Homo sapiens: one gene and its partners. The protein of the gene in region 2 interacts with the protein of the main gene of each other region in a pairwise test. Each region holds a gene or a part of one and is shown on either strand. Other genes may lie near its edges. The genes, in order: NAPRT, RBPMS, ARID5A and UBAP2.

Region 1 (7,783 bases), about 110 Mb from region 2:
TCTGCTAACTGCAGCATGTCCATGAGTGGAGACCCTGTGTGGACGGGGCAAGAATAAGCGGGGGCCCTGGTGCTTTGAAGGTGGACAGCAGGGGGGATGGGAGGGCCTCACCGTCAGAGCCCAGGAGCCGGAAAGCAGCCTTGCTCCCAGGCAACGTCTGCTTCTCGGGGTCCTCGGTCAGCTTCATTCGTGGCTGGCCCCCCACGGCCACCAGCTGCAGGAAGAGGGCGTTGAGCTGGCTGGTCCTTATCCCCCACCCAGCACCATCCCTCAGACCTGCCCCCACCTGGGCCCCCGACACTGTCCCTACCTTATAGACGCCACCCAGGGAAGGCTGTTGGGGGCAGGTGACCACACTGGTGCCAATGCCAATGACATTCACCTCACTGCCCTGGGTGGGGAAGGGGGTGGCCGTGAGCCCAGCTGCCCTGGGTGGGGAAGGGGGTGGCACTGCCCTGGGTGGGGAAGGAGGTGGCACTGCCCTGGGTGGGGAAGGGGGTGGCAGTGCCCTGGGTGGGGAAGGAGGTGCCAGTGCCCTAGGTGGGGAAGGAGGTGGCACTGCCCTGGGTGAAGGGGGTGGCAGTGCCCTGGGTGGGGAAGGGGGTGGCAGTGCCCTGGGTGGGGGAAGGAGGTGGCAGTGCCCTGGGTGGGGAAGGGGGTGGCAGTGCCCTGGGCGGGGAAGGAGGTGGCAATGAGCCCAGCCAGAACCTGCAGGGGCCCCCAGAGCCCCCCAGCCACCCTCCGCCTACCCACTCATCCACCCCACCTCCTGGGCCAGTCGGGCCAGCGCCTCCTCGTCAATGTTGTTGCTGACTACGATGAGGACTGACTCCAGCCAGGGCACCTGGAACCTGCCGCGTGGGTGGAGAAAGGGTGGGGGCCACCCCTCGGGTCTTCCTGATTCACCCTGGTGTCCCCCTGCTCCCCGCCCCGCCTCAGTCAAGGACACCTGTGCTCACCTTCTGCTTGGGAGCTCCTAGGGAGCCCCACCACTTACTTCCCTGCCACGGCCTGCAGTATCACCGCTGAAACTTCAGCAGAGTACCTCACTGTCCTTCCCTGCCCATTCCCAAACCCCGGGGATCTCCCACCAGGCACACCTCCTCCCCGGGAAACTCACTGGGCTGCAGCAGCTCGGAAGACCTTGCGGATCTCCTGAGCCTGCTGTAGCAGGTCACCACTGTCCAGCCTCACGCCCACTGCCCGGTAGCCCAGCTCTCCCAGGGCCAGGGCGACTGCTAGGAAGTTGGGGAGACCACTCCTGCAGAAATAGATAAGGGAGTCAGAGGCTGCTGAGGTTCTGCTGAGCCCACCCCTAAAGTGCCCGGGCTCACCTCCACACGCTGTAGGTGTCCAGGAGGCCCTGGAAGGCCCGGGGAAAAGCCAAGGCATAGGCCACAAAGGCTGCCCGCTCGCCTGGATGCGGCTCCTGCACCCCCAGCCCCAGGTGGGCACACACCTGCTCCAGCCACACCTGGGCTTTGGCCGCCAGGTCCACCCCAGGGCCCTCACCAGCTGCTGGCGCCAACATCTGTGGAACAGAGTCGGTGAAGAATGGGGGCCAGGAATGCAGGATGAGGCCTGGGAGCAGCCAGGGACACCCTAGTTTGAGAGCAAAGGTAATGCAGCCCGTGCCAGCTTCCTGGGACAGCACTGGGGTGACCTGCCTGGGTGGCACACCTCTCGCCAGGGCAAGGGCTGGCTTGGGGCCTGTCGCCTGGAGACAGCAGGGTTTAGAGGAGGGACTGACCGGGTCAGGGGGCACCTCGCTGCCTGAAAAGGAAGTGACGAAGGAGTGGGCCAGGGTCCCGGCCACCGGCACACCTCGCAGCTGGCCCGCTAGCACGTTGCTGCTGCTGTCGAAGCCTGGGGAGGAAGGCGGTGGGATTGGGGGACCTCGGGCCAAGATGGGGCTCCTCCTTCCCGGCCCTTGCCTTGCCCCGCACCAGACACTCACCGCCCAGGTAGCTGTAGGTGGAGGCTGTCAGGCCCCCATCGGGGCCCTGAGCCCGCCTCAGGCCCATCTCTAGCAGCCGCTTCTCTGGCCCTGCGATCAAGCGAAGCCGCGCTGCGTTGGTGGCCACCAGGCTGTGGGGAGCCAAGAGTCAGGGGGTCCCAGGGTGAGGATCACTAGGCCACCCAAGACGGCGGTTACCTGGGGCCTGGAACTTCCAACCTGGGAGCTCCACCCTCACCCAGCCCCTCCTTACACCCTGAAGAGTGGGGGCGGGAGGCCAGTCCTGGGACCCCTGGGCAGCCAGCCCCGCCGCCACAGTCCAGCACGGAGCCCCGGCGCTGGGGGCCCATCCCATGCCCACGCTCCCTGCCAGTGGCCCGCAGCCCACCTGGCGTAGCTGACCAGGCAGAGCAGCGGTGTCTCCAGCAGCTGCACCACCAGGAGCGGCCCGGACACCTGCAGGAGCGGCACCTGCGGGGAGAGAAGTCAGCTCCGCGCTCGGCCCAGCACCCCGTGGCCGCCGCGCCGCCCGCTTACCCCTACTCACTCCGGGGAAGGCGAGGGAGCCCTCGGGCAGGGCTCGCACCGTCACCTCGGAGCAGTCGAGGGCCCGAAGGTGCTCGAAGAACGCAGGATCCGTGTCTGGGGGCAGCACCGAGGCCAGGAACTGCACGTCTGGAAACGAGGTAACTGCGCTGAGACCAGCGCGGGGACAGACCGGTCGTGGGACATGGGGGGTTCCACGGGGGGACAAGGACTTCCACCGGCCATAGGTGGGGGTTTCTGCCGGGCGTGGGGGGCTCGTCGCGCGGACGGGGGACTACCGGCGTCCCGCAGGCGGAAGGCGCGCAGGAAGCGCACACAGTCGCGCAAGCCGGCGGCCAAGGCGAAGGCGCCGCCGAACGGGCAGCGGCGGAAGAAGAGCTCGAACTCGGCGGCGTCCCGCGCCCGGCCCGCGCGCCAATAGCCCAACGCCATGGTGGCCTGGTAGAGGTCAGTGAGCAGCGGCCGCGCCGCCGCGCGCGCCTCGGGGTCCTGCTCCGCCGCCATCCTGCTCCCGACGTCCGGACTCCGCCCCGCCCCGACCCCGTGACGCGCCCCGGCCTATGGCGCACTCCCTGTGGGGCTTATCGTGCCGTTTGGGAGCGGCACGGGACTCGATGGAGGACGGGTGGGGCTAATAGTATCGGCGCGCCGAGAGGGGCTGAAACAGCTGGACCCGGGATGGGGTGGGGGATGTCACCCAACTCCTCTCGGACCCCCCAACCCCACTCCAGGCCCAACGGCCTCTTTGGAGCGCAGCCCGGTCTTGGTCACCAGAGGTGCCCCCAGTCGCTCGTGTCTCTGCCCTTTGGCCGGGCAATGAGGTGCAGCTCAGGACTTGCCAGGCGGCGGAAAGGGTGGAGGACAGACCAGCCAGACTCCACCCCCACCGACCCAGAAGACAACCGCTGGCCAGCAGCCAGCTCCTGCCCTGGGCCTGGGGAGGGAGGCCAGAGGCTGCCTTAGTTAGAGCTTGAGCAGCCAGGCTAGGACGAGGCAGCCCAGATGGACGCAAATGTCGCTTGGAAAGAGCTTGGCACCCAGGAAAGGGCGGCGTGGGGCAGGGGGGCGCATGCCCACTGTCGGCTGGCACCAAAAGACCTTTTGTGGCTATGAAGGCCCAGTGTCCCTCAGTGGTGGCTTTTATGGGGTCCTGCAGTCCAAGCCCCACAGGAAACTTTCTAAAGGTTTGAGGGCAAAGTCAGGGGCCACTACCCAGGGAGAATCCATTCCCCTGTGGCTTGGGGCCCCGAGGACAGAGTCTGACCAGAAGTAATCAAGTAATTACACCCCATCCTCTTTCACCCCAATGCAAACACGGGTGGTCCAGGGGAGGGAGTGTGGCCACCCATGCTGACCACATACGGCTGTCAGGATGCTGAGGCACAGCTCCACAGAGCCCAGGCAGCCACGTTCTGGCCACCCCAGAACATCATGGGAGGGGCACAGTCCCTGGAGCAAGGGGCAGGGATTCCAGGAATGAATGAGGTGAGGGGAGGGCCGGGACAGCACATGACAAAGGGCATGGCAGCAGGGCCGGGTGCTACTGGGACTTCTTTCCTGGACAATTCCAGGCTTGCACGCTTGCTCCCATGGGGACAATGCCAACAGGAGGCAGAGTGGTGGGGTGGTGGCCTCTCCAGATAGTGACCTAACAGTTTCTGTTTCTGGCTTTTTAAACCCCCTGAACTGGACTTGCTTTTGCAATGGAAAGAAGAGGGAGGGCCAGAGCTTTGGGAGGGAGTGGCCAGGAGATGGAGGGACAGGCGGAGGTCTGCTGGGGGCAAGGTGACATGGCCACAGAGGGTGGCAGCAGCCAGGATGACTGTGTGGGAACAGCAGGGCAGAGATGGGGCTGAGACAGGGAGGGAGACAGGCCAGGTACGAGCAGGAAATGACCAGGACGGAGCCAGAGGGCCGGTCTCAGTCTTTAATCGTGGCAGGGCCTCACGCACGCGCGCACGTACACACACTCAGGCTTCAGATCTTGTTGAAAGCTGCGATATCGACACTCTGCACCTGAGGAGAGGCGGAGGGTGACGGTCAGGGCTGTTCCCCTACAGCCCACTCGGAGCCAGGAGCCTCCTCTGAGGTGGGGTTCACTCTGGGACTCGCTCCCCACTGCCGTGGGGTGGAGTGCAGGGTATGGGCCAGGGTCCCCAGTCTCCTCTCCCCTCCTCTCCCCGGCCGGCTCACTCACGTGCTCCTCAAACTTGGTGATCTCCTCCTCCAGCAAGTCTGTCCCCACCTTGTCGTCCTCCACCACACACTGAATCTGTAGCTTCCGGATACCGTAGCCCACGGGCACCAGCTTGGAAGCCCCCCAGACCAGCCCGTCCAGCTGGATAGAGCGCACACAGGCCTCCAGCTGGGCCATGTCCGTCTCATCATCCCACTGTGGGGAAAGGGGAGGAAAAGCTGGGGTCAGCCACCCTCAGAACACCCAGGAAGTACCTGCATGCACCCTACCCTCAACCACTGTGTGTCCACAATTCTGTTTCCTTAAAGGGCCCACAGAAAACAATCCAAATTCACACCTTCCTGCCTCCAAGTTTGTGTTTATCCCAAGACTTCTAAACTCGGCTTTAAAGTCTCCCCAGAACCCAGAGGGCAGGGGGAGGGTCACAGGCTGAGCCGGCTAGGCGGGCACCAGGGCAGTGCCTGGCCCCCTGAAGCCCCACCCCGCCCACTCACAGGCTTGACATCCAGCAGGATGGAGGACTTGGCCACCAGTGCAGGCTTCTTGGCCTTCTTCTCCGCGTACTGCCGTAGCCGCTCCTCCCGCAGCTGTGCCGCCTCCTTGTCCTCCTCCTCATTGTCACTGCCAAACAGGTCAATGTCATCATCCTCGTCATCCTCTGCTGGTGTGGCTGGCTTCTTGGCTGGGGGCTCCACTTGGCGCATGGGAGATACGTGCTGCCACAGGGGAAGGGACAGGAGGCACGGCTGAGACGCCCCAACCAGGGCCCAGAGCTGCCTGGCCACCTCCTGGCCCTCCTCCCTCCTTTGACTGGAGGAAGGGCAGCCCCTGTGTACCGCAGCTGTGTACATGCAGGGCCCCAGGAAAGACAAAAACTGCCTCCACCTGCCCAGGGCTAACTGTAAACCTTCCTGGGGACCTGAGGACTCCAGTATCCTGGCTGCCAGCTCATCACTGCTGCTGGGGCCAGCCCACAGGGCGACGTGGAAGCCAGCAGGGCCACGTGGTCCCCTGCAGTGTCAGGCGTGGGGAGAGCATTCACCTGGGTCTGTGGGGCCGTGGCCCGGTGGCCAGGCGAGCTCTTCTCCAGCACGTTCAGCCGGGCCTCCAGCTTGGAGATGGCCTGCTGCAGCTCCTGTACCACTGGGGGGGCAAGGGGAGCACGGTTAGATGGCAGGGGCCAGGGACAGCCCCAACCCACTGGCCCGGGGCCTCACCGCCACGCAGACTCTGGTTCTCCACTTCCAGACTGGCAATCCGGACGACGAGCTCACCGTGGTCTCCGCTGGTGCCGCTGGAGGCCCCGGGGCCTGAGCTCTGCAAGGCAGGAGGAGGGGAGGGCTCAGTGCCCAGCCTGCTCCTAGGGTCCCCCTGCCATGCTCAGGACTGCAGGAACTCACGGAAGGAAAACTACAGCTCGGGAGAGCAGGAGGTGCCCCCCGCTGATGCCCAGCTCAAACTTATGACCTCAGAGGTGGCGGCCACCACAGACCACAGTGAAATTCTCAGCCAGGCAAAGTCCAGGACAGGAGGCTCTTGGTGCCCCAGAGACGGAGGCTGTGGGGAGCTGGGCCATGGCTGCTGCTGCCCGGCGGAATCCTGCTGAGCAGCCAGGCTCAGAGGCTGGGTGGGAGGTGCTGAAGGACTCACAGTCCTAGGGACAACCTGGGACACGCCTCAGGGGACCAGGCAGCACTGGAAATGGGAGGCGGGAGCAGCTGAGGGCCCAGTGGGGGAAGAAGGAAGGAGCCCACCTGTGTGGACAGCAGCCACCCAAAGCTTTGTCTCCCTGGGCCTCACGCCTGCCATCTCACTCAGCAAGCCAGTCTCTAGGTGATCCAGGGCCCCAAGCCCACCTCATACTCTGCCATAGCTGAGACTGATACCTCGGGGCCCAGACAGGATCCCAGCCTCCTGGCCCTTAACACTAGCCAGTCCTTAAGCATCTACCTGCACGCATGGGCCATTTAGCCTGCCCACCCTCCAACAGGATGGCTCGAAGGACAGGGTGCACCTGGCTGCATGGAGCTCTCAGCAAACCCCATCTCGGCAGCTCCCCGGGGCTCCCTCTCTGTGGGGAGGGGCCTGGAGTAGCCGGGCAGGCAAAGCCGCTCCTTGCAGCAGGTGCGGACATACTCAGGCCTTTGCCCAACGTGCAAACCCATCCCTGGGGCCCTCCTGCCACCGTCCTTGGGACCATGCTGTGGGGAATGCTTGTTTATGTATCTGGAGGGTGTGGGAGCTAAGCCCCGCAGATCATGGGCAAGGCCGAGCCAAACTGGCCCAGGAGGCCCACCTGGCAGCAAGGCCAGGAGGAAATGGACAGGGAAAGGCCAGGCTGGCAGAGGCGCGTGAATGGTGGTGGGGGTACGGGAGGCACCGGCAGAAACTGACAAACTCGGGGGCAGAAGCCGGAGCACGGGAGGGCCAGGCTTTGGGGCGCCAGGGGGCATGGAGAATCACAGCAGACCTCCCGCGGGAGTGGGGCTGGGTCCTGAGGAGGCCGGAGTCTGTGAGTGGCACCTGAGGCCTCATGCACCCCACACAGCAGGCCCAAGGACAGGGAAAAGGTCCCCTCTGGAAGAGGCACTAAGTCAGCACTGGCCCCGGGCTGCATGATGAGCAGCGGGGGCCGTCTCACCACTGCCTGGCTCTGCGGGCCACTAGGCCAGAGCCCACAGCACTCAGGACACAGGGAGAGTCCCCTCCTTTGATGCTGACTCAGGGGGGACTAGGGATGCCAGGCATCAGAATCCCTGAGCACAGCTTCAACGGGCAGGCTCAGGTCACCCAGTGCAGTCACAGCGGGCCTCAGAGAGCCCCTCAGGGACTTGGGGGATGCCAAAGGCAAACACTTCAGAGCCAGACCCATGCCTGTAACCCTGTGCCAGCACCACGCTACCAGAAACCCTGCAGTTCTGAAACCCCAGTGTCTGCTGAGCACTCCCACCCCAAATCCAAGATGAGACTGGGCCCCTGCCATGGGCTGAATAATGTCCTTCCAAATCCACATGCTGGAGTCTTATCCCCCGGTATCTTAGGATGTGACCTTATTTGGAGACAGGGCCTTTGCAGAGGTAACT
Region 2 (7,713 bases):
AATGTGCTTAAGAGCAAGTTGCTGATACAATGGGTGGGCAGGGAAAGGGTCAGTGCAGTGGTTTTGTGTAATGCCGGGCACATTAATGGCACTCACCTAATACTCTATTTATTTTACCTGTGGCTTTCAGGGTTAGAAAGAAAAAAACAAAAAAGAGGTTAAGAGTTTTTCAAGAACAAAATATAAACCAAAAATAGGAAATTAAGGCAAAATTACCTGGATCATTCAGGCCACCTTAGTTTCTTTTCCTCAATTTCTGACATTATAAACCCCCCTCTCTTCACGGTCTTAACTGTTTTGTACACGACATCTCTCTTGGACAACTTGGGTTCTGAAATCTTCCTACGTGTCCCCTTACTTTTTACATAACAAGTGTTTTGCTAAAAAGACCGATACTTTCTAGAGCCACATGCCATTCCTACCTGAAAAGGAACGCTGTCAGATAACAGGACAAGTAAGAGGCAGCAACTGTACTGCAATGGCCCGCGATTATACAGCGATTATTATACACAACCTCACAAGGACGGAGGAGCGTCCAGGAACAGGGCAGGCAATCCCTTGGTCCTGGCAGCTGTTAAGAGGGGTCAAGCAGAAAAATGTGACTTTTCTATACTTAATTTTAATGTGGGTATGATTTTTAGGACATTGAACCTCTTTTGCTACCTACCAAAAGGAAAAAAAAAAGTTTTCTCAACTGGGTGAATAAAGAAAGATGGTTTCATATAATATTCTAACCCTGAGAAGCAAACAGATTGCACATCTAGCTGAAACAGAAAGATTTCTGAAGCGATGATTATCTTGATATGGTAAGTGAATTAGTTAAATATGGTAATTCCTAAAAAAGCACACTTGTCATTATTTTTAAATTTTTTTAAGTGGTAGGGAAAATAAATAGCAAAGCAGCCAGTAAAGTTCAAGAAAAAAAATCAGAACACACCATTCAACTCTCCATCGCTTTGAAAAAAGAAATGCCAGTAGCATTCCTACAATTGTAATTAGAAAACATGCAAGTAAACAACTCTTCAAATAGTCTTTTATAATAAAATAGAAAATGTCCTCGGGTGAAAAAGCAATTTTTGGCTGACTGCAATTCATTTAGGTTTTCACTACCATACAACTGGGTGACGAGTAAAATCTCCTATTTATTTTGCATTGTTTGGCATAGTCTCGCTCCTCTACCTTCTCCATCTAAATAGTTACCATTTTCCAAGTGGACAATGTGCAGAGAAGTTGTATGTATTAATGAATTCCTCTGCAATTTTGGTTTCACTATCAGAATTGAAGTTTGCACACAACATAGTGTCTCAACAATGATCTCAACATTCTAACGCTTTAGAATCCGTTTACCTTCTGTGTTCACCTATATCAGGATCCAATACCTGTGTGAATCTTTTCGGGTCATATTTAGACGTGCACTTTCCTGCATCTACACACACTCTCAAGTTCCTCTAGAATGTTTAAGAACTCAACTGTGTGGGATGTTAAGAAGTACGCCAGAAATAATTTCTTGGACTCCAGATAACGTACCTGCAAAAAGAGTCATTTGGTAGGATACCACAAATATCCTACTGAATTCTGAAACGTTTGTTCCTGAGTCCGACTCCCCTTCTGACCACATCTACTCAATTTTGTTTCCACCGAAGGAACGCTCCGCAGTCACAAAACTTTCATCATGATTACGGACGCACCACCTAAAATGCATGCTCAGAAGTCAAAGTCCTATGAAAATACCCTCGATGAGCATTTGGTGAATTGCTGCGTTTTTAACCCTCTTACTCTGCTCCCCTCAGCTGCACGGCCCCTAAAATCACAAGCGTTCACCGCCCAGGCTCGGGGTCTTTGACTCAGCAGAGAAGAATGTGGCTGATGAGTTATCTATTAATCCAAAAAACCTCGGCTAGAAAGATATTTCACCAAGAACTTTTAACACGGAAAGGGAGGGGGCAGGGAATAGAGGTATCTTTTAACGAGAACTTTCCCCCGAGTTTCTTCCTTAAACTGCTCCCCCCCCGACCCTGAATCCATACACAATTTCCAGCCCCGGCCCTAAGTCCTGACCCTCCGAGTCCCGATTATCTGAGGTCACCCAGGAGTCAGCTCTCGGTTCCACTTATAAATCCCGGGCAAACAAAGCTGAGCATTATACTTACAAAAGTCTCCGAAAAGTCCTTGGAGTTACGCAATTTGGGGCCCGCAGACGCGCGTGGACACAAAAACACACGCTCCCGAGATCCACCCTCCCCGGGCCACACTGTGGGGCTGCGTCCGGGGCACGGGCCATGCCTGAACCTTCTTCCACCGCCGCGCCCCGGGCCCGCGCCCCGCCGGCCGCCCGCACTGGGTCCCGCGTCGCCCCCGCCACCACACCGAGCCGCCCAGTACCTCCTCCTCCTGAAGGTTGGCCTCGCTCGGGGTGTTCTCCTTCTCGGCTTTGCCGCCGTTGTTCATCTTCCCGGTCCTTCCTCGCCGGGCCGGGCAGGGCTGGGGCGCGGGGCTGGGCGAGGGCGCGCTAGCCCACTGGAGCCTTCCCCGGGCGCCGGGGCTCCCTCGGGCGGGCGCCGCGGGCTGTGGGGCTGGAGCTGGAGCCGGGGCAGTGGCTGTCGGGCTCGGGTTGGGCTGGGGCTCCCGCGGCGAGTCTGCGACGGCGGCGGCGGGCGACTCAGGAAGTGCAAGGGAGAGACGGGGCAGGGCGCGGGCCGGGAGCGGGGCACCGAGACAATCGGGCCCCGGGAGGGCGACCTGGAGAGGGAGGGCGGGAGCCAGGGGAGGAAGGAAGAAGGAAGGAAGGAAGGAAGCAAAGGATGGGGCGAGGACGCGCGTCCCAGGAGTAAGCGCGGAGAGTTGGGGCTGGGGGCTGCAGCCGCTGGAAGGAGGGGACGGGGGTGCCTAGAGAGGAGGAGGAGGAGGAAGAGGAGGAGGAGGAGCGGGGCGGAGGAGCGCGGGCCGCGGCTGGGACGCTGGGACCCGAGAGCCGCTGAGTACGCGCTCCAGGCAGGCTCTGGGAAGTCCGGGATGGAAGCAGCTCCCTTTCTCTCGCCTTCCTCCCTCCCCTCTCCCCTCCCTCCTCTCCGCGCCTCTCCTCCTCCCTCCGCCCTCCCTGGACGTGGGCTGCCGGCTGCAGCCCGGAGGGACGGGGCGCGGGACGGAGCCCCCCGCGGGAGGAGGGGCCGGCGGCCGGATGGCGCGCGCCGGGGAGGGGCAGCGGGCCGCGGGCGGAAGCGGCGACCCCAGCCCCCGACTCAGCGGCTGGTCGGAGGGCGAGGGCCCGGGAGGCCGAGGGCAGGGAGGTCGGGTCCCGCCGTTCCCTTGGCCCCCGGGGGCCCCGGCGTCTGCGCGCCCCGGGACTTCGGGGACCCTGCCCCGCCGGGGCCTGGACCGGGACCTGGGATGTGTGCGACTTTTAGTTTGCCGGCTTTTACCGAGGGATTTGCACCCCTGGCCCTAAGCCCACCCTTCCCGAGCCAGACCCGGTTCTTCCTCTGCTGCTTGAATGACAGCATGAGAACTCGAGGGACACCGGGGACAGCCCACTCCGGGCCGGCTTTTTCAGGACAGGGCTTCAAACCCATCTCCAGCGCGGGTCCTGCGACGCGCCCGGAGCCTTCCCCGCTTCGCTTCCTGAGCGTCCCGCGGCCCCCCGACTCCTCTCCCAACTCTCACCAGACTGTTCTGGGATTGTTTACCTGGCCTCTCCCTCACCCTTCAGAAAGCTCCTTCCTGGAAGAAAAAAAAAAATCCTGCCCTATTTATCTTTTTAATCCCACGGCTATTTAAACGGGCTAAGGGGTATATAGCAGGCACTCAATAAATATTTGTTGGCAAAGTGAATATTCCTTATTGCAGGCAGAGCTGGGGGTCCGTACGGAGGAACTTCAGAGGCTGGAAGCACGCTTGAAAAAGAAAGGGGGCCTGGGCTTTGCACCAGCTTCAGGATTGCGTACTTGTTTCCTCATCCGTGAAATGGGAGCAGCTGAATGTGTCTCCTCGAGTTTTCGAGGTGATTATAGGTTGATAGAGCTATATACAGCACCCAGCATTTATTCTTGCTTCGTTTAGGTTTACAATACATGGAAGCTAACATTATTATTAAGAAAACTTCTATTTTTCCAGGGCCTTAGAAAGCGTTTCCAATACTCGATCATTTAAGCTTATGGTTTTTTGGTTTTTTTTTTTTTTAGAAAAATGAGGGTCTCACTTTGTTGCTCAGGCTGAGCTCGAGCTCCTGGCCTCAAGTGATCCTCCTGCTTTTGGCCTCCCAAACTGATGGGATTACAACGTGGAGCCACCGTGTTAAACTCTTAGATTTGACTGCTACAAAGGTATAAATGTGGAACTCCATATATCAGTGGGTTCTGCCCCACTTCTTCCTCCCAGGAATTCTCCATCCCAGCCTGCTGCTCCTGTCTTGCACCGGTAACAGTTTCCAACTACAGTATTTGCTTAACTGTTTCTCCCCACCCCCACCAGACATTCTTTATACTTGGTTTAAGTGCTGCTGGGGATAGGGCGGGGGTGGCTGTGGGAGTTGCAGATAAGGACCCTCCCTTTAGGGAGTTTAAAGTGGTATGGTGGCTCACACTTGGAATCTCAGCACTTAAGGAGATAGAGGAAAGAGGATTGCTTGAGCCCAGGAGTTCAAGACCTGCCTGGGCAACATAGTGAGACTCTGTTCTCCACAGAGGGGAAAAAAAGAAAAGACAAAAAAATAAAGTGGTATGGAGCCAAGATACTCTCAGAATCCTCTTTCCGATTATAGAAAGCAAGGAAAATATTTGCTTTAAGGGCATTATGAGGAGAAAAACAGTAGTGATACTTGGATTTACATATTGGATTTATCTTGGGGGTTTGGAGATTTTGAAACAGGAAGATTTCCATAAGGAAAACATGTTTTTTTAATTGCTGTCATAATGTGATTTCTCTCTAAGGGGAACAAACATGTATCCTGGATGAAAATAAACCAACTCTTGAAACTGCAACCCAAGACATTCAGAAGAGATAAGGCTACAGTGAATGTGGAAACTTTGCACGTGTTTGGATGTATTGATTGCCTTAACTGGCAGCTCTTTGCACTGCCAGCTTCCCTCAATTACATGAGGAACCACGAGGGGGCAATGTCTTCCCGAGCAATAATAGCTGAGTGGTGGTCTTAGGACCCCGTGGTGGCCCATGATGCTAGCACTGTGTCTTTGGCCATTCTTGCCTGTCATGGAGCATACTCCACAGAAGGGCATGGTCTTCTTGGATCCCGGCATGGGCCCAACAAAAATGACAATGTAGTCAATAGTTCCACTCAGACCTCACTTAGGAGCAGGTGAACTATGTTGTGTGATATCAGGATGCCCGGAGAACCTCTCCTATCCCCACCCAGGGAAGCATGGCTTAATTCCAAATAAAGAATCTGATTTCTTTGTCTTTAAGCCAAGCCAGGACTTTGTCCATTGTTAAAAGTCAAAAATCTCTGGGATAAGAAACAAAAATAAGTTCCAGGCGGGGCACGGTGGCTCATGCCTGTAATCCCAGCACTTTGGGAGGCCGAGGTGAGCCCAACACCTGATGTCAGGAGTTCAAGACCAGCCTGGCTAACATGGTGAAACACCGTTTCTACTAAAAATACAAAAAATTAGCTGGGTGTGGTGGCGCACGCCTATAATAGCAGCTACTTGGGAGGCTGAGGCAGGAGAATTGCTTGAACCCGGGAGGCAGAGGTTGCAGTTAGCCGAGATTGCACCATTGCACTCCAGCTTGGGCAACAAGAGTGAAACTCTGTCACAAAAAAAAATAAGTTCCAGGAGAGGATCCTTGTCTGGCTTATTCACTGTTGTATTCCCAGCATCTAGACAGTGCCCAACACATAGGAGGCGCTCAGTTATTTTTTAATAAATGAGCATTTTAAGTCTGATGGGTTACTGATTCTCAGGCCTGAATGTTATTACTGGATTTTTCCAAGATCCAGCAGGAAGGACTAAATCAGTGGAGATGTCTTAGAACAGATAGTCACAGCAATGGCATTAGGCAGGGTCTTGGCAGTGTTTTTTTTTGTTTTGTTTTTTGTTTTCTGAGAGTCTCGCTCTGTGGCCCAGGTGACATTGTTTAAGCAAATGTCTCACCCAGGCGAGAACTGTTCAAGCAATTCTCCTGCCTCAGCTTCCCCAGTAGCTGGGACTACAGGTGCACACAACCACACCTGGCTAATGTTTTTGTATTTTTAGTAGAGACAGGGTTTCCTCATGTTGGCCAGGCTGGTTGGTATTGAACTCCCAAACTCAGGTGATCCACCCACCTCAGCCTCCCAAAATGCTGGGATTACAGGCATGAGCCACCGGCCTGGCAGTGGTCTTTAGTCATGATTTTGCAGGGGGGACCCTAGATAGAGACCTTGTGCAGAATGGAACAACTGATAAGGTTTCAAACAGTAAAAGATAAAATCCCACCATTGAGGCCGGGCACAGTGCCTCATGCCTGTAATCCTAGCACTTTGGGAGGCCAAGGCGGGCAGATCACCTGAGGTCAGGAGTTTGAGACCAGCCTGGCATGGTGAAACCCCATTTTTGAAAATACAAAAATTAGCCAGGCGTGGTGGTGGGTGCCTGTAGTCCCAGCTACTCGGGAGGCTGAGGCAGGAGAATCGCTTGAACCCGGGAGGCAGAGATTGCTGTGAACCAGATCACACCACTGTACTCCAGCCTGGGCGACAGGGAGACTCCATCTCAAAAAAAAAAAAAAATCACACCATTGAATTTGACATATCAGACAATAAAATCGACACTGATGCAGGGATGGCTATACTATATAGTCAGTGGTGAGAGTGACATTCAGGGTGTTTTCAGAAAAACATATGGGGTTGGGATAATATGTCAAGAAAAGGGAGATTTCCTGCTTTTTATCCTTTTCATGAAGAGTAGTTTAGAGTTATTTGAAAGAGCAATAATGTATTACCAATAAAACTCAAGGAAAATCTGTAAACAGACTTTTGCTATTTATAAAACTTTGTGATTGAAGGCAAAGAGTTTGAATTTGTGTGGGGGAGGAAAATGTACCTTCAATCAGGGTATAAATGATAATTACAGCTTGTTTATGACTTTAAAGAAAGATTCCAAAGTAATATCTCCTCAGTAGCAATAGTTCTCAGGCATCCTGAGAATTATAAGACCACAAAGGGATTTTTTTTTTGAGACGGAATTTCGCTGTAACCAAGGGATTTTAAATCCTGTAATAGTTGTGCTGAAGACCAGAAAAGTCCGCTTTCTCCCCAGCCTAACACTCTACCTACTGTATTGCCTGACCTTCGAGGTTACCTTGAAAGGGTAATATTGTATACACCTGTAGTTTTTTACTACTCACTGCTGTTTCTCTGGCAGTGTTCATTTCGAGGCTTGCCTTAAGAAATCCAAACCTATAATTATGTCTTAAATGTTTGCCTTTGGGAACTGCAGACATTAAAGGTCTATTTTGAGGCGATTTGCATGGCATGGGCTTTGTACCTATGTTAGCTTTGCAGCAGAAAGCTGCAGTATCTACCATGTGTGTTGTGATTGTCTATTAACCCTTCGGCTGAGCCAAAGAAGTTATTGAGGCCAGAGGGGCTGTATTTTATTGGTTTTTGTCATCCTTGACACCTCTCTCTCCCTTACCTCGTGCCTGCTCACCTCCAGCTCCTCTCCATCTTCCCCTGATTTTTTTATTAATTTATCATTGTGGCAAAAGACACATAAC
Region 3 (6,402 bases), on a different chromosome or scaffold from region 2:
CTGGTCTGTCCATGCGGTTCAGGCAAGTGGGGTGGGGCTGCAGAGAGGGCTCAGCTGCAGGCCCCAGAAATCTACATCCACCACCAACGCAGACCAACTCAGGCTTCCTGGTCACACCCCCAACCCCCCAGGGGCACTGGTAACAGCCTGGGGTCCCGCTCAGAGCACGGGAGTCACACAGCCTGTGCAGCCCTCCCCTGCCCCTCCTGCCAGGGGAACCTGGGCAAGTCACCGACCCTCCCAGGACCTCCAATCCCCATCTCCACAATGAGGAAGGCAGCAAGCATTCCCTGAAGCTCAACTAGGAAACTGGACTGAAGGCAAGGACAGATGTTAGAGGCTGCCTAAACGGCAGAGGCTGGGGTTTGCTTTGGGCCCGCTCTTCAGTGGGGTAGTGGCGTTCAGGTCCACCTCCTTGGCCCCCTAATGGCAGCCCCACCCACAAGCTCACCCCCGCCTTGCCTGCCGTTGCAAAGGCCCATACCACACACACCTCAGGGCTACGTGGATTCACACTGGTGTCTTTTTATTGGATTTTCCGTGGGCAACCTGGGTGCTTCGAGCTCCGCTCTGGGGCAGTGGGAGCTGCCCATCCTCTCCCAGCGCCTTATAACAACTGGGTCCTCTGCTCCTGGGCTCAGGCTGCTGCCTTGAGATAAACCCAGTTTTCCCACTGCCTTCTTCTTCACTTGTGCCAGGCTGCCCAGCCAGGGGCATGGCCCGGGTGTCCTGGGTAGCAGGCACTAGTTCAGAGCCCCCTGGCAGCAGTACCTGCCTGTTGTAGGCCCCTGTCGACTCCACAGTGTACACAACACCATGGGCTGGCCTACAGCTTGGTGTTGAGGTGGAAGAAGTGGGGCGCTGCATAGGTTGTGACTGGTGGTGCGTGCCAGGCAGATGAGGCCGGGCAAAGTCTGTGGCGGAGGGCACTGTCGAAGGACGTTGGGGGGAAGTGCATCAGGCCAGCGGCCATGGGCGAGGGGCCTGCGGTGGCCAGGAAGTGGGCCGGGAAGGCCGGGATGACCAGGGGGCTGAAGGGGAGTGCAGCCTGGCCCTTCAAGGGGCCCGGGGTGCCAGTGAAGTTCAGCGGGCAGTGCAGCATGGTGCCCCTGTAGGCCTCTGGGGGCACAGGCCCCAGGGCTGGGCCCAGAAGGCAGGAGACCAGGCCGGACCCTGCAGGTTTGGCCCCACACTTCTTGGCATCCGCCTCCTTAAGAAAGGGAGACACGGCCCGCAGTCTCTTCCCACTGTGGGCAGCACCCTCTTCCTCCAGGCTGCGCTTGCTGCCCAGGCCTGGGCTACTGGGGAAGGTGGGCGGGAGCGTGGGGCTCTCGGCTGGGACCTTGGCCATGGGGGACACCCAGCAGGCTTTGGGCTTGGGGTAGAGGATGCCCTTTCTGGAGCCACCTTTATGGAACGCAGAAGGGCGGTTAGCGTCTCCGCCCCACACCAGCTGGGGCTCTTTCACTGACAGCCCCTCTTTGCCAGGAGGCCCCAATAGCACCCCATCTTTAAGTCTAGAGAAGAAGTCCCTGGGGTGCTGGCTGACAGGCTTCAGCACCTCGGTGGGGTGGGTGTAGAAGCAGCCCTTGAAGATGGGGGCTGCCGGGCAGGGGCCTGCCTGCGCCTCCTCTCTGAGGCTGCCACCTGGGGCCTGCAATCCCTCCTGAGGGGTCAGCCGGTGCCTGGAGTTCTCAGTCAGCCCTTTGGGGCTCTGGGGACTCTCTGGGAGGTGAACAGCTGGGGACGCCTGGGGCTCTGCCCCATGGCGGCAGCCCTCCTCCTGGCACTGCAAGGCCTCCACCTTGCTCACCTGGGCCAGGAGCTTCTTTTTGGCCAGTGGTGACATGATGCCGTGTGTCCCCTTGCAGTAGAAGCTGGATAGGAGCCGCTTGTAGGCCTCAGGACAGCCGCTGGCACCCACAAAGGACACAGAAGACCCAGAGGCCAGGCCCTGCTGTTCTGTGCTGTTCCTGGGGGGCTCCTGGCTGGGAAGTGGTGCTGGGTCAGCAGCATCTGCTTTGGTCTTTCCTGGCATCATCTGGAATGAGAGAAAGTCTTGCCTCAGGACTGCCTCAGCCCCACATCCTGACCTGAGGAGCAAGAGGTGGCACTTTCAGGCCTGCCCAGGTCCCCCGCCAGCCCCTGCAGTCCTCTGTACAGAATTTTCCAAAGGTGCCCTGTCCTCTGAGTGGACACAGCCTCAGGTGCCTGGTGGGTGGGCGCAGGCTGGAGTTCAGAGTCCACTTGCACAACCATCTGTGGAGAACCTGGAACCTTGCAAGTCCCGCCCTGGGTGCAGGTTCTGTGTATTCTGAGCAGACAGCTCCGCGGCCACAGGGAGTTGTGGGGTAGGGGGCTACAAGAGGCAAGGGACAGGGTGGCCCCAGCCAGCCGCAGGCCTACCTGGTCCATGCGCCGCTCCTCCTTGGCCTTCTTCGGCCTCTCGGTGGCCCCATCATCCCCCCTGTTCTCCTTAGCCATCTTGTACTGTTTCCTGGGCTTGGAGGTGGGCAGCGGCTTGTCATCCTCCCCCTTCAGGTGCCGCACGTATGGCAGGACCAGCCTGGTGAGGAACCACGCATGTCCCCCAGGAGGCCGGCGCCCATCCCCTCCCTGGGCCTCTGTAGCCTCCTCTGAGCCCCCTTCCCCGCCGGCGCCGAGGAAGGCCCTCTCCTGGTCCCAAAGCTTCAGCTCCCTCAGTGAGTGCGCCCAGCCAGCCTGGGCTCCCGCAGCTCTGAGGACGGCGCATACCCTGCCCGCTCCGGGCAGAGTCCACCCGGCCCTCCCGGCAAGGTCGGCCAAAGCCCCGCAGGGTAGGCGGCGTCCAGCACCCGGGCCCGCCCCGCCGTACCTCTCGTAGTGGCGGCGCGTGCACGTGGCCGCGCTGGTGCTGCCTGGGCTGCCCCCCAGCTCGTCGTACACGTTCTTCCAGAGGCGGCGCCCGGTCACCTGCAAGGGCACCTCGTGAGGGCGCGGCCGGCGGGCGCCCCCTGGCGGCGGGGTCCTTGCAGCTCCGGCCGCCCTCGCAGGGACTCGAAGGACTGCAGTTTGGCAGCTGCTCTGCGGCTCCAGCAGCGGCCAGCCGATTCTCTCTCCTAGGGCCATGGACTGCTGGCCCAAGCAGTTTTCCCAACACGGGGCGGGCAGAACAGATGGGGAAGGCTGAAAAGCTGCTTTGAGCAGCAGAGTACCAGCGGGGAAGGCAGGGAGGCAGGGACGCAGGGGTAGGACTGGGGATCCTGGCTCTTCCTCTGTCCAGAGGCAAGGACAGCGCTGCAGGCTCACCCCAGGGATATGCAGTTTGGCAAGGACTGGGAGGTGCCTTCCTTACCAGCTCATAGGCCCCCAGCTTCTCCACTGCTTTGTAGATCTTCCACAGGTTAACTGGGGGAGAGAAGAGCAGGCTGGCCGTCAGTCTCTGTGGGAGGTGGGGACAGCATGCCACCCCTTCCTGGTGCCCTGACAGGCCAGGCACAGACCAGCACACACCCAGCCAGGGCCACTGCAATAGACGGGCAGGCTGTGCCCTGTGCACCCCTGGCCCAGTGGCAGCCTGGAGGGAGGCCTCCTTTCTATCTGCAACCTGGGTCACCCAGAGTGGGAGTGCCTGCCCGATGCCCTGCCTGGGCGGGGTCCCCTGCTGGGCCCCCCTCCCTGCCTGCACCCCAGGGACGCACTCTGCTTGAAGCCGAGATGGGGCACCCTCTCGATGGGCGTGTGTCGCTCCTTCATGAACTTGTAGAGGCTGACCAGGAAGGCCTGCTCCTCCTCCCGCTCCTGCTCCTCCTCCCGCTCCCCGCCTGCCTCGGGGGAGTCCTGGGGAGAGAACAGGAGGCATTGGGATGGGCCCCAGTTGGTGGCTGGCTGCTGGGGATGTGCAGAAACCACTGGCTGCAGGAGGAATAAGGTACCTACCCCAACCCCAGTTTCCCAGAGAACACCTAGCCACTGTTCTGGGAGGGAGTGACTGTTCCTGGGTTCGGCAGACACAGGTGTCAGCTCTCAGCGCCCCAGGACAGGAGCTAGAGTCCAGGACCTCCCCGGAGGCTGGGTACCCCAGAGCAGCTGGCTCCAGAGGCTGCCACGAGAGCAGTCCCCAGCCTTCTCCAGGCCAGGGTCACTTCTCTGTCTTGTTCTTGATTTGTCCTATTTGTGTCAGCTCCTCCGCCAGACTAGGAACTCCAGGAGGGCAGGCTCAGTGTCCCTGGGACTCCCCCATAACCGCAGAGGGAAAAGCTGAAGGAACAAAGGTGCTTGGTGCTTTCTGGTGCCCTGGGGTTACTCTGTGAGGCCCATGTTCCCCGAGCCTCTGTGTGGCCCCAGCCTGCCGTGCTGAGCACAGGGAGGTGAAGCTCTGGGCTTCAATTGCGCACTGCTGTCAGGGGCACAGGACTTTTGGTTGCGGGTCCCAGAGGGGCAATCTCTGCTGATGCCGTTTATCCAGCGAGTGGCTCGGGGCAGAGAGCCTAGGGCCCATACCCTGCTCAGAGAACAGACAGCTTCCAGGACATAAACCATCTGGACTAGGACAGCGCAGACAGCCATGTGTTCCAAAAATATTTGATCCAGCTGGGCACGGTGGCTCACTCCTGTAATCCCAGCACTTTGGGAGGCCGAGGTGGGCAGAGAGATCACTTGAGGTCAGGAGTTTGAGACCAGCCTGGCCAACATGGGGAAATCCCATCTCTACTAAAAATACAAAAATTAGCCAGGCCTGGTAGTGCATGCCTGTAATCCCAGCTACTCGGGAGGCTGAGGCAGAAGAATCATTTGAACCCAGGAGCTGGAGGTTGCAGTGAGCCAAGATTGTGCCACTGCACTCCAGCCTGGGTAACAGTGAGACTCTGTCTAAAAAAAAAAATAATAATTGATTCAAGTTTATTTCAGTGTTTTTACTTTTTTTGTTAGTTGTAAATAGCTTCTGTAATAGCTCAGTGTTTTTAAGGTATTAAAGACCTCTAAGAAGAAACAACATAGGAACTCACATATCACCCATGAAATCATAACATGCTGGGGCCCTGGGGCTGGTCTGTGCAGACCTCAGAAGGAAGGCTCTCTCATAACTGCTCAAGTCAATCTGCTCCTCCAGGCCTCTATTCTGAATTCCTGGCAAGCTGCTAAAGACAACTACCATTTGCAACCACTTTTCTGCATGAATCAGGATATTTTTCCAGACTGTGCCACCAAAGCAAATGGCCAAAATGAATGAAAGCCGGGGCCGACTGTGCTCCGAAAAAGCTGCCTGCAGCTCCCCCTTCAGATTCTGTGCTCATCGAAACAGTCTTGCTGGTCTCACCGAGTGACTTTATACGCCCATGTTATGCATCTGAATGAATGGATGTGAATGTGGTTTTACATCATGGGCTGGAGCTTTTGTCTGTTTAATGGATCAGGGTGGTAGGTCATCTTCATTTCAAAAAAGGGTTCTGCTACAAAAACCAAGATTGAAACTCTCTGCCACAGATGACAAGTAAGTCCCCTGGCTGCTGGGCAGGGCCAGGGTAGGAACATATCTCCCTCCTGAGAGCTTGGGGAGTGTCCAGGTTCACCTGGAGGCGGAGCACAGGTGAGGGTGGCAGGGAAGAGTGCCCAGGGAGTCAGCAGAGGGAGTCAACTCACCTCCAGCGAGATGGGGTTCTGGATTCCGTTCTGCTTGCCAGCAGGTTTGGGGGATGCAGGTGGGTCTAGGGCGTCACCCTCCGTGGACTGCTTCCTGTTCCCTTTGACAGGGGCTGCTGCAAGGAGAGAGGGAAGGAGTAAGGAGGAAGGGGTGGGGAGAGAGCATATGAGATGCAAGCAGGGAGGAACAGGAGCACTCTCCCTACTCCCAATTGGAGTTGCCAGAGGGCGCCAGTGCAGGGGCTCACTCCTGTGATCCCAGCACTTTGGGAGGCCCAGGCAGGCGATGACCTGAGGTCAGGAGTTCAAGACCTGTCTGGGCAACGTAGTGAGACCCCGTCTCTATTATTAAAAAAAAAAAAAGAATTGGCCAGGGGGAAGGGGTGTGTCCCTGGCTGCACATAGGCTACATGCACACACACACACAGGCCCTCCTCCCCGCTCCCCGACAACCCGCTGCATCCGCTCCACACCTGTCCCTTTTCTTTCCTCTGCTCCAACTATCTCCCCACATCTTTGAAGGAAACGCAAAACCACCTTGAGGTCAAGTCACAGGAGGCCGGGGTTGGGCTGTGGTGCTTGGGGAAATCCTGTCTCCAAAATCTGCCCCATGCTCAGACACAGAGTTGAGAAGCAGCTTAGTCTCACTGGAGAGCTAAAGGATCCCATGGCTGTGGCCCCAAAGCAACACAGGGGTCCCTGGGTAGTAGTTCCTCTGGGAATATTCAGGAATATCTGACCTTTCCCTGAGCATCTGCAGAGTTCTAACTGCCCTAATAA
Region 4 (7,140 bases), on a different chromosome or scaffold from region 2:
GTGATATTCCCTACATGTCCTCCCTCTCTTTGCCTTCCTTCAGGTTGTATCTCCACTCTTTGGAAAAAACGGCTGCTTCTAAAATCTATCAGAGATCTACTAACTTACCAGTCAACACCATGGGTACCATAACACTTAGCTTTTAAGAACGCTCCATTTACTCAAAATAACAACTAAGAGCTCCATTTACTCAAAATAACAACTAAGAATGAACGGGTATTTGCTGACATACAGGTTTCTCACAAGGAAAAATAAAGACAGATGTGCTTAAGGGCAGAGAACTTTACAATCTGTAAATGCCTGCAGACTGCTTCTTTAGAGCAGGCATTAACCCTTGCTAATATACTTAACCACCCCCACCCCCCAACCCCACAAAGTGTCTTATTAACAAAGGAAATCTTAACAATAAATCATCATTTAAAAAAAAAAAAAAGAGGACTGGGAAATCAACAATTCAAAGCTAACATTTTAGAAGTAAAGGCTTCATGCCGGGCGGGGTGGCTCACGCCTGCAATCCCAGCACTTTGGGAGGCAGGCGGATCACGGGGTCAGGAGATCAAGACCATCCCGGCTAACACAGTGAAACCCCATCTCTACTGAAAAATACAAAAAATTAGCCGGGCGTGGTGGTGGGTGCCTGTAGTGCCAGCTACTCGGGAGGCTGAGCCAGGAGAATGGCGTGAACCCGGGAGGCGGAGCTTGCAGTGAGCCGAGATCAGGCCACTGCACTCCAGCCTGGGCGACAGAACAAGACTCCATCTCAAAAAAAAAAAAAAAAAAAAAAAAAAAAAGAAGGCTTCACTTCAGACCACTCCAAACCTTCAAGAAAGGTTTGTACTTTCTACACATATTTTATACTTAAGAGGGTAGATACCGGGACCAGTTCCCATCACAATACAAGTACATATTGAAATAAACCTATTAGTCTACATGTTCTCACACCATCACACCATTTCTCCCCATACAATAAAAGTCACTCAGGCTAATACTAAGAGAGACACTCCTGGTGATCACTACATAGACTGCACTAGTAACCAGGAAAGGGAAGCAGAGGTGTTATTGTTGTTCCAATATAGTTCTAAAGGCAACTCCATGTGACTACTGCTGATCCAGCCCACATTTAAAGGGAGGACAGAGGAAACCAGAGCAGCAGGAAACAGGCAAGAGAGGCAATTACCACAACCCTTTCCCATGGCCTCATTCTCTCCCATGCCACCACTTTCGGGCATATTTCAATCACAACAAAAACCTTCCTTCTCTGAAAGGTTTCATAATTATTGAGGGTGAGAGGCAACAGGGAAGCAAATGGGGGAAATCAGCGCTGTGGGAAAATCTCTCGTCACACGTATCAACTAGCCATAAGTAGGAAAATCAGGAGTATGCTGGCAGCAAGCAAAAGGGCAGTTTGGGAAACTAATCACTTCTGCCTAATGATAAGAGAAGCCTTCAAAGCAATGGAAGGACAACCCTAGCGAAGGGGCTCCACAGGTGAGTGTATTGAAGGAAACTATCATCTCCAGGGAGTGGAATACATTCCCTTTCCTGAGGTAAAAGGGGAACACACCAATGTAGGATACGGGAGAGCTTAGGTATCATGTTCAACTTCCTTCCACCTTTCACAAACTGGCACTAAAACGGATACACAATTCACAGTGAAAAGTGAGGAATGCAATAACTAGTCGCATACCCCTTGTTGAAAAAAGTGCTGTCACAACGGAAGAGGAATATAAGAACTGGGTTCACCCAAGAAATTATATGCCCTTCAAATAAAAGATAATCTTTGGATACCTTATGGAGACCTGAAAAAACCCTCAACTAGCTGAGCACCGTGGTGCACACTGTAATCCCAGATACTCAGGAGGCTGAGGTGAAAGAATCGCTTAAACCCAGGAGCTGGAGGCCAGCCTGGGCAACATATGGAGACCATATCTCTAAAATTAATAGTAATTTTTTAAAATCTCTCAACTGTTAGGATACACTGGTGCTGTAGAAAGACAATAAGCCTAAATACTGGCAAACCATATACCTTCCTTGAATGTGAGGTAAAAACAATATCCAATAGAAGTGGTAGTAAATGACTGGATTACATCAAACAGGAAATAACAGTAATAATGATGGGATCAACCCCTAAAGCGAGCAAGCATTAGAGACCAGAGTGGTGACAGTTGAGATGCGTGGGCAACTAATTAGACTAAAAACTCAGGGGAAAATGTGGAAAAGCCGAGTGGGAAAGTGATTCAGAGGCAAACAACTGAGTTGTAATGCACCAATGAAAGAATAACATTTTGAGTATGTATTATTAACAGAGAGAGCTTTGCCGTTTACAAAGCGCTCAAAAACCTACATTAAATAATGAACTGTGATATAACCAGACTACAGGAACGGCGGGTGTGGAGGAAAACTGAGTCCCAATTGAGACCAATGCCCTACAGAATTGAAAAGAAGTAGAACTGAACTGTGACTCCGGGTAAGCCAGGAAAGGTTAGAGAGCGCATAAGTTGGGGCTATAACAGGGCCAGTCCCAAGACTAGCTACGGGCGTGAAAGCGGAAAGGTGATGAGATGGGACCGACAGCGTGGCGGGGAAGCTCCAGTCTACTGGCAGGCACCGAGGTGGGAGAGAAAACCACACCCTCCAGGGCAGAAACCCGAAAGGGGGGAGGGGAGGCACCCCTGGGGCTGGGTGGGGCCCAGCCGACCTGGACGGGGGAAAGTAGGAAGAAGCACAGGGCAACGTGAGGGGAAGAGGAAGGAGGGAGCCCGGGCCTGGACGTAGAGGGACCGTGGACCTGGCGAGTGAAGCTCGGCCCGGTCCTCACGGGTGGGCGCCGGGGCAGTCTGCAGGCGGTGGGGTTTCAGACGAGCTGAACCCAGAATTAGAAAGCACACGCTGCAGCGCTCAGGGCCCTGGAAGAGGGAAGGAGAGGGAGAGGATGGCAATTACCGCTGCTGCTCTCGGAGGACCCAAGACCCGCTGCCGCCGCCGCCGCTCGTTACCTGCCAATGTGCCTCTTACAAAGCGGCGGCGGCGGCACAGGCTGCCCAACCCGTCACGTGACCTCGCGTCACGGGCGAAGGAGGAGCCACAACACGTCGCTCGTGCGCGGCTTCAGAGTCAGCCTAGGCGGCGCGCGGCCTCTTCCAGCCACCACCTCCACCCCAACCCCGCGAAGCCAACCGCGTGGAGGTGGGGACCACAGAAAGGAACAAATAAGGGAGACTTGATAATATGTATTGTACTCGGAGTCATCAGGAGAGTATTACCCACCGCATACAAGGTGCCCACAACTGCAGCTCGTCGTCGCGCCGTGATGACCTCACAAAGCACCACAGGTTACTCCCCTGTGGCCGCCCTGTGCTCATCACGTGATGTGGTCCAACCACTCAGGGCAAGCCTGGCCTCCCAAATGTTGCACGAGGGGACCACGACTCCCAACATGCTGCACAGCCAAGGCGACCCCTACCGCAGCCTTTCTCCAGCGGGCTTCTAGACGAACCCCCTAGAGACCTTAGAGCCGAGGGAAGGCCGGGACGGAAAGCGGACTAAGCTGGCTTGAAGGACTAATACCATTGGATGCCGCCCGCCATGTGGCGGAGCGTGGTGCCTGCTGGGAGGTGTAGTCCTGGCGGGGGGTGGGGTTCCGCTCCCACGTTCCTGGGCTCGCTCTGCGCCCTGCCCCCTGCGCGGGAAAACGCCAACGGCTAGCAGCGAGAGCCTCGGCAAGGCGGAAGGTGCGCCCACTTTTAGTCTTTTTCAGTGCGGTTTTACTTTTGCCCTCCCAAGCCCCTTCTGGGTGAAAAGACTAGAATCTACTGAACGCCTACTCCAAGTCAGCCGTTTATTTCTGTTATATCATATAATCAACTCCTTGAGTCCAGGATTTTCCCTATTTAAGGATTTAAAAAAAGAACCTTAGAGTTGTTTGTTGACCGAAGAGACCCAGGTTTTCTGTCTTTAGAAAATTAATGACCTCCTCTCAATAGGATCTGACCTGTTGTCAACTCCAAGAATTACGAATAAATAAGATGATGGTTTATAATTGTAGCATGGTGTTTTAAAGTATTTTCCATTTACTGGCCTGTTTGGATGTGAGGGCGTTCTGGCTATCTTGTCACCCCATAGATCGCCAGGGCTGATTCGGCTGATCTGGCTGTCTAGGCGGGTGGCCCCTTCCTCCCGCACCTCTCCATGTGCGTCCCTCCCGAAGCTGCATATTCGGTCGAAAAGGAGGAGCATCCCCCATAGAAGAGGACAAGTCAAGGATATAGGAGTAGCTGCACGCCCGTGTTAACAAGCTCTCAAGGTCCTCTAAACAAGCTCTCAAGGTCTACTTACTGGCCTGTTTTATCCCAAGCTAGTTACATACAAGGACTTTGCAGTCCCGGCATGCCTTATCTCAATTGGAGCTTTCCTCTGTAATAACACTTCACCGGCTTGTGAAAATTAAATGAGATTATGTAAAATGCCTGCTTGACACATAATAAACCCTCAGTAAGTATCAGTAATCATTTTCACACTCTACCCATCGGGCCCAAAAGGTCTAAGTAAGGTAGAAAGGGGAAATTAGCTTATACTGAACTTTGTACAGGGCACTATGCTAATTACTAATTTGCTAGTTATTAAGTAAAACAATTGACATCTTAAACAGCCCTATCTAGTTCAAATAAAGCCTTTGTTATTCATCTGAATTAAAGAATGCTGCCGGGCGTGGTGGCTCACACCTGTAATCTCAGCACTTTGGGAGCCGGAGGAGGGCGGATCACAAGATACGGAGTTTGAGACCAGCCTGACCAACACGGTGAAACCCCGTCTCTGTTAAAAATACAAAAAAATGTCCGGGCGCGGTGGCTCACGCCTGTAATCCCAACACTTTGGGAGGCCAAGGCGGGCCGATCACGAGGTCAGGAGATCGAGACCATCCTGGCTAACACGGTGAAACCCAGTCTCTACTAAAAATACAAAAAAATTAGCCGGGCGTGGTGGCGGGCGCCTGTAGTCCCAGCTACTCGGGAGGCTGAGGCAGGAGAATGGCGTGCGGAGTTTGCAGTGGGTCGAGATCGCGCCACTGCACTCCAGCCTGAGCGACAGAGCAAGACTCCGTCTCAAAAAAAAAAAAAAAAAATAGCCTGGCGTGGTGGCACACGCCTGTAATCCCAGCTACTCAGGAGGCTGAGGTAGGAGAATCACTTGAACACAGGAGGTGGAGGTTGCAGTGAGCCAAGATAGCACCACTGCACTCCAGGCTGTTCGACAGAGCAAGACTCTGTCTCAAACAAAAAAAAAAACAAAGAATGCTTAAACTGTGCCTTTAACAAACAGAACTGGGCCGGGCGTGATGGCTCACGCATGTAATCCCAGCACTTTGGGAGGCCAAGGTGGGTGGATCACCTGAGGTCAGGAGTTTGTGACCAGCCTGGCCAACATGGTGAAACCCTGTCTTTACTAAAAAAATACAAAAAATTAGCCGGGCGTGGTGGCGGGCGCCTGTAATCCCAGCTACTTGGGAAGCTGAGGCAGGAGAATCACTTGAACCCAGGAGGCAGAGGTTGTCGTGATCCAAAATTGTGCCACTGCACTCCAGCCTGGGAGGCAGAGTGAGACTCCATCTCAAAAAAAAAAAAACAAAAAAAAAACAGAACTTATCATCATCACCATTCATGTGTAGGTGTATCTTATCTCACCTCTTTTGACAATGAGCTAGGATTGTGTCTTGTCTGTTCGTCTTCCTCCTGTTTGCCCTGCTGCTTTATAGAAATGTGTGGGAGCATCAGAGATAAAAACCACCCTTGAGAGTCAAAGACTTAATGGACAGATCAGGCCAGGCATGGTGGCTCATGCCTGTAATCCCAACACTTTGGGAGGCCAAGGCGGGCGGATCACCTGAGGTCCAGAGTTCAAGACCAGCCTGGCCAACATGGTGAAACCCCGTCTCTACTAAAAATACAAAAATTAGCCAGGCATGGTGGCGGGTGCCTGTCATCCCAGCTACCCGGGAGGCTGAGGCAGGAGAATCACTTGAACCTGGAAGGCGGAGGTTGCAGTAAGCTGAGATCATGCCATTGCCCTCCAGCCTGGGTGACAAGCGCAAAAGTCCGCCTCAAAAAGAAAAAAAATGACAGATCAGGAGAAAAGGATTCTGAAAGGAATATACAAACTTGATAACAGTGGCTGGCTCTGAGGGGTGGGAAAGAGGTTTGTGATTGGGGTTGCTGGCCCAAAGGGACTGCAGTCTAACGTTTTCGCTTTTTACTTGGAGAAGGCACTGGTATATAACTTACGTAATTATAAGATTAACTTGGCCCAGCGCGGTGGCCAAGCACTTTGGGAGGCCAAGGTAGGCGGATCACAAGGTCAAGAGATTGAGACCATCCTGGCCAACATGGTGAAACCCCGTCTCTACTAAAAATACAAAAACTAGCTAGGTGTGGTGGTGCACCTGTGGTGCGCACCTGTAGTCCCAGCTACTCCAGAGGCTGAGGCAGGGGAATCACCTGAACCCGGGAGTCGGAGGTTGCAGTGAGCCAAGATCGAGCCAGTGCACTCCAGCCTGGCAACAGAGCAAGATTCCTCTCAAAAAAAAAAAAAGAAGATTAACTTTATGAGGTCGGGCGCAGTGGCTCACATCCGTAATCCCAGCACTTTGTGAGGCCGAGGCAGGTGGATCACTTGAAGTCGGGAGTTCAAGACCAGCCTGACCAACATGGAGAAGGCCTGTCTCTACTAAAAACCCAAAATTAGCCTGGCATGGTAGTGTATGCCTGTAATCCTAGCTACTCGGGAGGCTGAGGCAGGAGAATTGCTTGAACCTGGGAGGCGGAGGTTGCAGTGAGCTGAGATCGTACCATTGCACTCCAGCCTGAGCAACAAGAGCAAAATTCTGTCTCAAAAAAAAGGAAAAAAAAAGATTAGCTTTATGAAAAGGAAGACCAGAGACCACGTGTTAGCTCTGTGACCCTGTACAAGCTGTGTCACTTCTCCAGGCCTCAATTTCTTGTTAAATTCATTTTCAAAAACATCTGCCTTTTCTGTGTCAGGGACACTGTGCTGGTTACTTTTATTACATTATCATTTATTAAGCAAGAAGTCCTACCAAGAACCTAGGATCAGAGAAAATAAGAACATCAAAGCCCTAAAACCTCA

The links.
Region 1: the proteins of RBPMS (region 2) and NAPRT interact in binary tests that used the Homo sapiens proteins (3 or more experiments, as listed by UniProt).
Region 3: the proteins of RBPMS (region 2) and ARID5A interact in binary tests that used the Homo sapiens proteins (3 or more experiments, as listed by UniProt).
Region 4: the proteins of RBPMS (region 2) and UBAP2 interact in binary tests that used the Homo sapiens proteins (3 or more experiments, as listed by UniProt).

The regions. Positions count from the first base shown.
Region 1 is NC_000008.11:143,575,312-143,583,094, forward strand, and holds the start of NAPRT (nicotinate phosphoribosyltransferase), read right to left. Parts: upstream 3,020-7,783; 5' UTR 3,008-3,019; coding exon 2,782-3,007; intron 2,633-2,781; coding exon 2,505-2,632; intron 2,429-2,504; coding exon 2,346-2,428; intron 2,089-2,345; coding exon 1,958-2,088; intron 1,867-1,957; coding exon 1,751-1,866; intron 1,532-1,750; coding exon 1,335-1,531; intron 1,262-1,334; coding exon 1,121-1,261; intron 852-1,120; coding exon 767-851; intron 392-766; coding exon 311-391; intron 215-310; coding exon 112-214; intron 35-111; coding exon 1-34. Other genes in the region: EEF1D (elongation factor 1-delta), read right to left, coding at 4,481-4,519, 4,701-4,895, 5,195-5,416, 5,743-5,843, 5,918-6,017. UniProt on the Homo sapiens protein: Catalyzes the first step in the biosynthesis of NAD from nicotinic acid, the ATP-dependent synthesis of beta-nicotinate D-ribonucleotide from nicotinate and 5-phospho-D-ribose 1-phosphate.
Region 2 is NC_000008.11:30,379,828-30,387,540, reverse strand, and holds the start of RBPMS (RNA-binding protein with multiple splicing), read right to left. Parts: upstream 3,001-7,713; 5' UTR 2,449-3,000; coding exon 2,383-2,448; exon of another isoform or gene 2,140-2,382; intron 1-2,139.
Region 3 is NC_000002.12:96,546,738-96,553,139, reverse strand, and holds the end of ARID5A (AT-rich interactive domain-containing protein 5A), read right to left. Parts: intron 5,739-6,402; coding exon 5,623-5,738; intron 3,820-5,622; coding exon 3,681-3,819; intron 3,388-3,680; coding exon 3,335-3,387; intron 3,115-3,334; coding exon of another isoform or gene 2,953-3,114; coding exon 2,855-2,952; intron 2,567-2,854; coding exon 2,407-2,566; intron 2,042-2,406; coding exon 827-2,041; 3' UTR 506-826; downstream 1-505. UniProt on the Homo sapiens protein: DNA-binding protein that may regulate transcription and act as a repressor by binding to AT-rich stretches in the promoter region of target genes.
Region 4 is NC_000009.12:34,045,882-34,053,021, forward strand, and holds the start of UBAP2 (ubiquitin-associated protein 2), read right to left. Parts: upstream 3,007-7,140; 5' UTR 2,944-3,006; intron 1-2,943. UniProt on the Homo sapiens protein: Recruits the ubiquitination machinery to RNA polymerase II for polyubiquitination, removal and degradation, when the transcription-coupled nucleotide excision repair (TC-NER) machinery fails to resolve DNA damage. May promote the degradation of ANXA2.